Homo sapiens: one gene and its partners. Changing the gene in region 3 together with the main gene of any one other region gives a genetic interaction. Each region holds a gene or a part of one and is shown on either strand. Other genes may lie near its edges.

What was found. A genetic interaction does not mean that the proteins touch.
Region 1: changes in ILK (region 3) and ARID1A together harm fitness more than expected from each alone (negative genetic interaction), as found in Homo sapiens cells (one large-scale study listed by BioGRID).
Region 2: changes in ILK (region 3) and ACACA together harm fitness more than expected from each alone (negative genetic interaction), as found in Homo sapiens cells (one large-scale study listed by BioGRID).

The regions. Positions count from the first base shown.
Region 1 is NC_000001.11:26,772,515-26,776,014, forward strand, and holds part of ARID1A (AT-rich interactive domain-containing protein 1A), read left to right. Parts: coding exon 1-118; intron 119-297; coding exon 298-473; intron 474-831; coding exon 832-982; intron 983-1,065; coding exon 1,066-1,203; intron 1,204-1,287; coding exon 1,288-1,384; intron 1,385-1,814; coding exon 1,815-2,706; intron 2,707-3,062; coding exon 3,063-3,193; intron 3,194-3,500. UniProt on the Homo sapiens protein: Involved in transcriptional activation and repression of select genes by chromatin remodeling (alteration of DNA-nucleosome topology).
Region 2 is NC_000017.11:37,246,337-37,249,836, reverse strand, and holds part of ACACA (acetyl-CoA carboxylase 1), read left to right. Parts: intron 1-1,162; coding exon 1,163-1,244; intron 1,245-1,680; coding exon 1,681-1,826; intron 1,827-2,860; coding exon 2,861-3,011; intron 3,012-3,500. UniProt on the Homo sapiens protein: Cytosolic enzyme that catalyzes the carboxylation of acetyl-CoA to malonyl-CoA, the first and rate-limiting step of de novo fatty acid biosynthesis.
Region 3 is NC_000011.10:6,609,072-6,611,370, reverse strand, and holds the end of ILK (scaffold protein ILK), read right to left. Parts: coding exon 2,215-2,299; exon of another isoform or gene 2,073-2,214; coding exon 1,963-2,072; exon of another isoform or gene 1,860-1,962; coding exon 1,732-1,859; exon of another isoform or gene 1,648-1,731; coding exon 1,526-1,647; exon of another isoform or gene 1,436-1,525; coding exon 1,336-1,435; exon of another isoform or gene 1,224-1,335; coding exon 1,093-1,223; exon of another isoform or gene 910-1,092; coding exon 760-909; 3' UTR 501-759; downstream 1-500. Other genes in the region: TAF10 (transcription initiation factor TFIID subunit 10), read left to right, coding at 68-182, 360-449. UniProt on the Homo sapiens protein: Scaffold protein which mediates protein-protein interactions during a range of cellular events including focal adhesion assembly, cell adhesion and cell migration.

The DNA.
Region 1 (3,500 bases), on a different chromosome or scaffold from region 3:
TGCAGGGGCCCCAGACTCCCCAGTCAACCAGCAGTTCCATGGCAGAAGGAGGAGACTTAAAGCCACCAACTCCAGCATCCACACCACACAGTCAGATCCCCCCATTGCCAGGCATGAGGTAAGGCCAAGAGCAGGGGCAGATGGTTGGGAGGATGGCTGAAGATAAGTGCATGGGAACTCCTTGCAGCCCAAGGTGGTCCTTGCCTCTGCCTTCCCAGCCAGTGACTCCTGCGTGTCCTTTGTTATATTGGAGGAATTGGTTTATTTGTGGTTTACTTGGTTTTCCTCACTCTGGAGCAGGAGCAATTCAGTTGGGATCCAGGATGCCTTTAATGATGGAAGTGACTCCACATTCCAGAAGCGGAATTCCATGACTCCAAACCCTGGGTATCAGCCCAGTATGAATACCTCTGACATGATGGGGCGCATGTCCTATGAGCCAAATAAGGATCCTTATGGCAGCATGAGGAAAGGTGACTGATCTGATTGCTATTTGAACTTGTGCTCGTAAAGACAGGGCCAGTGAAATGGGGGGAAATCTTGAGAATGGCTCAGGGTTCTTGTGGAGCCATCCTCTGAGATAATGCATTTCCTGCCCTAACTACCCCTCTTCATCCTTACCTCCTTTCTTGTCTTCTCCTTGGCTTCACCTTGTCATCCCTTAATAAGTACATGCTTTTCGCTGGTTGGGGCCTCTTTAGATCTCTGTTTTGAACTTGTCTGGAAAACAATGAGATCAAACCTGAACTCTGAAGAGGGCCTGGGTCAAAGGGTAGATTACCAGGCTTGTCAACTTACCAGTTTGTTCACCGCTTGCCTTTCTACGCTCAGCTCCAGGGAGTGATCCCTTCATGTCCTCAGGGCAGGGCCCCAACGGCGGGATGGGTGACCCCTACAGTCGTGCTGCCGGCCCTGGGCTAGGAAATGTGGCGATGGGACCACGACAGCACTATCCCTATGGAGGTCCTTATGACAGAGTGAGGTAAGCATGACCCCAGCTCCTGTCCACTCCCCCAGCACCCTGAAGCTATAGTGGGCTCAATCTGCCTCTCCAATTTTGTTTAGGACGGAGCCTGGAATAGGGCCTGAGGGAAACATGAGCACTGGGGCCCCACAGCCGAATCTCATGCCTTCCAACCCAGACTCGGGGATGTATTCTCCTAGCCGCTACCCCCCGCAGCAGCAGCAGCAGCAGCAGCAACGGTGAGTAAAGCCTGGTCTCGGTGCTGCTATGGATCAGGCTTCGCCACTGCCCACCCTAATCCTGTGTTTCTTTGCCTCCTATAGACATGATTCCTATGGCAATCAGTTCTCCACCCAAGGCACCCCTTCTGGCAGCCCCTTCCCCAGCCAGCAGACTACAATGTATCAACAGCAACAGCAGGTGAGGAGGGTAGCTGGGAATGGACTGGCATGCAGGTTCGCCTTGAAAACTAGTTAGTAAACTAATCTAACGTGTTGAAGTCTAAGAAGCTCACTTTAGATATTTTGGCATTCTTCTCTCACCTGACTGGCCAGTCCTGCCTGAAGAGCCACGTCCTCAATCTCTTCTCTATTTGGAGTTGGAAGGGGCTAGAAATAGACCTTATTTTGATTTTTAGGTTTTGTATATTTTTCTACTTAAGCAAGGGAAGGGAAGAAAGAGTGGTGGTTGCTTTTGGAAACAACTTCAAAAGACAATTTGTTAAGGTGATTCCCATGTTTTCTTGGAGTCTGTGTCCACCAAGCATCTGGTTGTAGCCATCTTGGCATCTGTGGGCTTTATGTCCCTGAGTGCAGAGTATTAACTTCCCCTCTGCTTGTCTCTGCCTTAGAATTACAAGCGGCCAATGGATGGCACATATGGCCCTCCTGCCAAGCGGCACGAAGGGGAGATGTACAGCGTGCCATACAGCACTGGGCAGGGGCAGCCTCAGCAGCAGCAGTTGCCCCCAGCCCAGCCCCAGCCTGCCAGCCAGCAACAAGCTGCCCAGCCTTCCCCTCAGCAAGATGTATACAACCAGTATGGCAATGCCTATCCTGCCACTGCCACAGCTGCTACTGAGCGCCGACCAGCAGGCGGCCCCCAGAACCAATTTCCATTCCAGTTTGGCCGAGACCGTGTCTCTGCACCCCCTGGCACCAATGCCCAGCAAAACATGCCACCACAAATGATGGGCGGCCCCATACAGGCATCAGCTGAGGTTGCTCAGCAAGGCACCATGTGGCAGGGGCGTAATGACATGACCTATAATTATGCCAACAGGCAGAGCACGGGCTCTGCCCCCCAGGGCCCCGCCTATCATGGCGTGAACCGAACAGATGAAATGCTGCACACAGATCAGAGGGCCAACCACGAAGGCTCGTGGCCTTCCCATGGCACACGCCAGCCCCCATATGGTCCCTCTGCCCCTGTGCCCCCCATGACAAGGCCCCCTCCATCTAACTACCAGCCCCCACCAAGCATGCAGAATCACATTCCTCAGGTATCCAGCCCTGCTCCCCTGCCCCGGCCAATGGAGAACCGCACCTCTCCTAGCAAGTCTCCATTCCTGCACTCTGGGATGAAAATGCAGAAGGCAGGTCCCCCAGTACCTGCCTCGCACATAGCACCTGCCCCTGTGCAGCCCCCCATGATTCGGCGGGATATCACCTTCCCACCTGGCTCTGTTGAAGCCACACAGCCTGTGTTGAAGCAGAGGAGGCGGCTCACAATGAAAGACATTGGTAAGGAGATCTTCCTCATTCGGTTGCCTAATCTGCCCCTTTCCATCTTGTCCATTGTTCCCTCCACCTTACTATTCTGGATGAGGTTGAATCTGGTCCAGTGTTGACTAAAATAGAACCAAAGAACTTTGGAAAAGGAAGAAATAAGCTAACTAAAGGTTCTCCTTCATTGCCATGCAATGAAGTCCTAGACAGACAGCTTAGAAGCCATGAGGGGCTGGTGTGTTTCATCTCCCAGACAGAAACTGCCTTCCACCTTGTGTTATCTTCAGAGTAGCTTCACTGATGGGGCAGCCCTAGGGGTGCCTCCAGCCAACCTGGGCTTGGTGGATAGACGACATGGAGGTTTATTTCAGGAACCCCGGAGGCATGGCGGGTAATGATGTCCCTCAAGTCTGGTCTCCTGGCAGAGAGCACATGGGCATTAGATACCATCAACATCCTGCTGTATGATGACAACAGCATCATGACCTTCAACCTCAGTCAGGTGAGTATCAGTGCCTGGGGAAGATTGAGAGGGTTTGGGATCTTCTTAGTGTAGACAATGGGAATGTCTCATCTTTAGCCACCTTGGTCTTTCTCTTTCTCTCTTGTAGATATCTTCCATGCCAGTACTTTGCTTCCTTTGCCTCTGGGCACGGGCCCAGGATTTTGACAGCAATAATAATTTGTTTACATGATAACCTTAACACAGGATTGACTTCAAAAGGAATTTGGGAGACACTTTGTGGTATTAGTAAGAATTCAGATTCAATCGATGCCAGTGGGGACACCACATTTTCTAGAAGAATCTG
Region 2 (3,500 bases), on a different chromosome or scaffold from region 3:
AGCTACAGTTCAAGATGAGATTTGAGTGGGAACACAGCCGAACCATATCAACATGCAATATTTGTTTCTTCCCACCTCCTGGTTTTTTAAAACTCAAATGGTAGCATGCTGTGAAGCTGTTATTTACCTTGCTTTTTTAACTCAACAGTATATTTTTTAAAGTGTTTTTTAGTTCACATCTTTTTAATGTCTGTATGTTTTGTTCCACATGTGAAAACATGCGCAACATCACTAATCATTAAGTAAATAAAATCAAAACCATGATGAGATACCACCTCACACCCATTAGGATGCCCACTGTCAAAAAACAGAAAATAGCAAGTATTGGCAAGTACGTAGAGAAATTGGGACACTTGTGCACTCTTGATGGGAATGTAAAATGATGCAGCCACTATTGAAAAATGGTATTGCAATTACTGAAAAAATTAAAAATAGAATTACCCTATGATCTGGTAATACCACTTCTGGGTATTCTGAAAGAATTGAAAGCAGGGTCTGAAAGATACTTGCACAGCCACATTCATAGGAGGATTATTCACAGTAGCTAAAAGATGGGAGCAACTCAGATGTTGGTTGATGGATGACTGGATAAACAAAATGTGGCATATACATACAATACAGTATTATTCAGCCTTAAAGAAGAAGGAAATTCTGACACATGCTAAAACATAGGTGGATCTTAAGGACATTAGGGCAAGTGAATTAAGCCTGTCACAAAAAGACAAATACTATATGGTTTTACTTATATGAAGTATGAAGAGTAGTCAGACTCATAGAACTAGAAAGTAGAATGACGGTTACCAGGAACTGGGGGGAGGGCGAAATTGGGAGTTGTTAATGGGTGTAGAGTTTCACTTTTGCCAGTTGAAAAAGTCCTGCAGATTGGTTGCAGAATAGTGTTAATATCCCCAACACTATAGAACTGTGCATTTTGTAATGGTTAAGATGGCAAATTTAATGTAATGTGTATTTTACCCTAATTTAAAAAAATCCATTGTAAGATTCATAATTGATGTGATCAATTCCTTACAAACGATCATTTAGGTATTTAGGTTGTTTCTAGTCTTTTGTTATTCTAGGAAATGCTACAATCAATAATGTTTTAGATTCTCTTATAACTGTTAGAACTTTGTAGTAAGTTCCTCTCTCATCGTTCTTTCAGGGGTCAAGTCCTTCCTGCTCATACACTTCTGAATACAGTAGATGTTGAACTTATCTATGAGGGAGTCAAGTATGTACTTAAGGTATGCAGAACCCCATTGGAGCTTGCACCTTACTTTTTTAGCTATCTTTCTTTAGGTTGAGAGGCAGGAGAAAAAGTTTGATTTAATGCAGGGATGGGGGTATTAGTGAAATTACCGTCATTATTTTTGTCAGTGTCCTGAAGCAGCGTTTGTTGTTCTATGAAAATCTTTTTTGTTGTTCTTCAACTTCACATACACTGCCAAGAGATAAAGGAGAGACAGAGAACAACCACAGTTGGGGAAAATCAACTAAGGTTGCCCTCTTTGCTTACAGCAGGACTGAGCCATGTCCACAGACACTGATGCAAATAGCATCAGTGCCATGAATTTTCTTCCTCCTGACAGATCTTTCTTATCTGTATTTTTGAAGCATTCAAATTTCATTTGGAGCTGTACCTGGAAGGGACACACTGATCCTCATTCTCATTCCCTACAGGTGACTCGACAGTCCCCCAACTCCTATGTGGTGATCATGAATGGCTCATGTGTAGAAGTAGATGTACATCGGCTGAGTGACGGTGGACTGCTCTTGTCCTATGATGGCAGCAGTTATACTACGTATATGAAAGAGGAAGTGGATAGGTAAGTGGCTGTTTGAGGTCCATTTGCTGGTCATCCTGTTAGCCTTTTCTCTTATTAGCTACTAGCTCTTGGGATTTTCCCAGGCTTTTCTTGGTACTCATTTGTAGTTAAAAAAAAAAAAAATAGTACATGCACTTAACAAAAATATCAAGAGTATTAAAGTGTTTATAATTAAAAACATGTCTCCCTACCACTCCAGTGTATGTGGACAATGAAAAATAAGTTCCCCTTTTTATAAGTAACCATTGTTAAAAGTTTCTTACATATTTGAGTAGAAATTTTATATGCATATACAAGTTACACTCATGTACATACTGTTTTTCTTTAAATACATTCACAAATGTGGCTGGGCGCGGTGGCTCACGCCTGTAATCCCAGCACTTTGGGAGGCCGAGGCAGGTGGATCACCTGAGGCTGGGAGTTCAAGACCGGTGTGGCCAATGTGGTGAAACCCTGTCTCTACTAAAAATACAAAATTAACCAGATGTGGTGGCTTATGCCTGTAGTCCCAGCTACTTGGGAGGCAGAGGCAGGAGAATCACGTGAACCTGGGAGGTGGAGGTTGCGGTGAGCCGAGATCACGCCATTGCACTCCAGTCTGGGCAACAAGAGCAAAACTCCGTATCAAAAAAAAAAGAAATTCACAAATGTTCAACACCAGTTATGGTGTTATGAGAATGAAATAAATTAACATGTTGAAAATGTGTAGAACATTGCCACAACATAGCTAGGCTTCAAGAAATGTTAGCTATTACGTCATCAATATCTTTGTGTGTGTTTTTTTAAATGGTGGTACCTGTTATTTTTAATAGTCATGTGGTATTCCATTATATGATTATACTATATTTAATCTGATCCTTATTGAAGGAAATTTATGTTAATTGACATTGTAAACAAATATGCAGTGAATATGTCTGTGTGTGTGTATAATAAAGTTTTCAGGATTTTTTTTCTTTGAAGGTTGACATTCTCTACCATTCTCCTTTACATCCTGAGGTGCTTTCTTAGCTTACATACTTCCACTTGTCTCCTAGATATCGCATCACAATTGGCAATAAAACCTGTGTGTTTGAGAAGGAAAATGACCCATCGGTGATGCGCTCACCTTCTGCTGGGAAGTTAATCCAGTACATTGTAGAAGATGGAGGTCATGTGTTTGCCGGCCAGTGCTATGCTGAGATTGAGGTCAGGGTGGTGAAAGGACTGTGGGATCATGGGAGGGGAAGGTAGGAAAAGGGTCGGCTGGGATGGACTAGGACTGAAAAGTTACAGAAAGGAGGCTGGGCACAGTGGCTTGTGCCTGTAATCCTACCACTTTGGGAGGCTGAGGCAGGAAGATCGCTTGAGCCCAGGAGTTCGAGACTAGCCTGGGCAAGATGGTGAGACCCCATCTCTATGAAAAATTAAAAAATTAGCGGCGTACAGTGGCACATGCCTGTAGACCCAGCCACTCTGGTGTCTAAGGCGGGAGGATCCCTTGAGCCCAGGAATTCAAGGCAGCAGTGAATGGAGATTGTACCACTGTACTGGAGTGGTACAATTTGTGGCCTGCGTCACAAATCAAGACCCTATTTCTAAAAAATTAAAAAAAAAGGTAACAGATTGGAAATAAGAATGAAAAAGAAACATCAGTTGGCTTAATTAGAAGTGCGAACCTTAAGATTTTTAAAACAC
Region 3 (2,299 bases):
AGGTTAGTTTTGGGTGCTTGTGCAGTATGTTGTCCATCTCCTTCTCATCTAAGTTTTTTCTCTCTAGAATTCGGCTCATCTCCTTAGCTGCCCAGAAATTCATCTCAGATATTGCCAATGATGCCCTACAGCACTGCAAAATGAAGGGCACGGCCTCCGGCAGCTCCCGGAGCAAGAGCAAGGTGTGAGGGGAGGCTTAATGAATCAGTAATTACCTTCCACAACAGTGGAGGCTTATCCTGCCACCCCTTTGGGGAAACTGAATCGTAGGGGAGGTGTAAGACTTACTCAGGGTCACCCATCTGGGATTGAAGTCCGGGATTCCTGTGCTCAGTTGGTGCTCTTCCCTCTTCCCTCAGGACCGCAAGTACACTCTAACCATGGAGGACTTGACCCCTGCCCTCAGCGAGTATGGCATCAATGTGAAGAAGCCGCACTACTTCACCTGAGCCACCCAACCTAAATGTACTTATCTGTCCCCATGTCCCCACACCAGCCTGTTTTCATAATAAACTTTATTGTGACAGGCGGGGCTGATCCCTCCCATGTTGGGAGACACCATGTGGCAAGTGACAAAGCTCTGAGCCCGCCCCTCTTGGGGCCACAGTGGTAGGGATGGGGGAAGGGGATGGACCCCATGGCTGGGGTAGTACCATGACTGGAGGCGGGGGAGGCAACCAGAGGCCTGCTGCTTTGGGGAGGTGCATTCCCCCAACCATGTCCCGACACCTCTGGAGTTCAGGCAAGGACCTTCCAGTCCTACTTGTCCTGCATCTTCTCAAGGATAGGCACAATCATGTCAAATTTGGGTCGCTTTGCAGGGTCTTCATTCATGCAGATCTTCATGAGCTTACACACATGAGGGGAAATACCTGGTGGGATGGTAGGCCGAAGGCCTTCCAATGCCACCTGCGAATACAAGAAAAAAAGCAGCCTCACAATTTGAGTCTGTCATGTAGAGAGAAGCCACTGGCCCTTGGGACAGGATTACTGTATATCCGAACAAATATGTGAGGAGCCAAGGCCCACTACAGTTATTTTCACCATCACCAACCACTCCCGCAACACAAATGTATGCTGTTGTGCTCTCACCTTCATTCCAATCTCCATATTGGAGAGGTCAGCAAAGGGTACCTCCCGTGTCACCAGTTCCCACAGAAGCACTGCAAAACTCCACATGTCTGCTGAGCGTCTGTTTGTGTCTTCAGGCTTCTTCTGCAGAGCTGGAGAGATAGGGCTTGTCTGTTCTGGCCCCCTTGCCTGTCCTGTCTCTGCCCCCTTCCACTACTTCTGAGGTGGTCCTTTTTTACCTCCCGACATGATGACTTCACTCACCTTCGGGGGCTACCCAGGCAGGTGCATACATGCGACCAGGACATTGGAAAGAGAACTTGACATCAGCCATGCTAATTCGGGCAGTCATGTCCTCATCAATCTGAGGAAGAGAAAACAGATAGAAGGAGGTAAGTCATAGATAGGCAAAGGGCTTTTGGGGCCTGGGCCAGGAGTGAGCTTGTGGCCTCACCATTACACTACGGCTATTGAGTGCATGTCGTGGGATGAGGGGCTCTAGTGTGTGTAGGAAGGCCATGCCCCTTGCCATGTCCAAAGCAAACTTCACAGCCTGGCTCTGGTCCACGACGAAATCTGAGAGGAGGCAAAAGTCAAATAGTTCAGAGAGGCTCCCTCTCTGCCATTTCCTCCCCAAGGAAATTCAACATCCCTACTCACTGGTGCCTTCATGTAGTACATTGTAGAGGGATCCATACGGCATCCAGTGTGTGATGAGAGTAGGATGAGGAGCAGGTGGAGACTGGCAGGCACCTAGCACTGGGAGCACATTTGGATGCGAGAAAATCCTAGAAGAGGGAGGGAGTGGTTGAGACCCAGTACAAAAGATCTCTTTCAGTGCTATTCAGGGTTCCTTGGAACTAGCAGCTTCCAGGTTACGCCTTGCACTACCTGAGCCGGGGACACTCTTCATTGAAGTCCCTGCTCTTCCTTGTACTCCAGTCTCGAACCTTCAGCACCTTCACGACAATGTCATTGCCCTGCCAGCGGCCCTTCCATAGCTGCAGGACAGGTAGGGGTTAGGAGGCTTGAAATGTTGCTGCCACTTCCTTGCCCACTAACTGGAGGAAAAACTTAAAACAGGTACAAAGCAAGTAATTTATGGGGGTTTAGTGAGGGAAGGGCAAGAAGGGCAGGGGTCACCTCTCCAGAGTGATTCTCGTTGAGCTTCGTCAGGAAGTTAAGCTGTTTGAAGTCAATGCCAGAGTGTTTGTTCAGGGTTCCATTT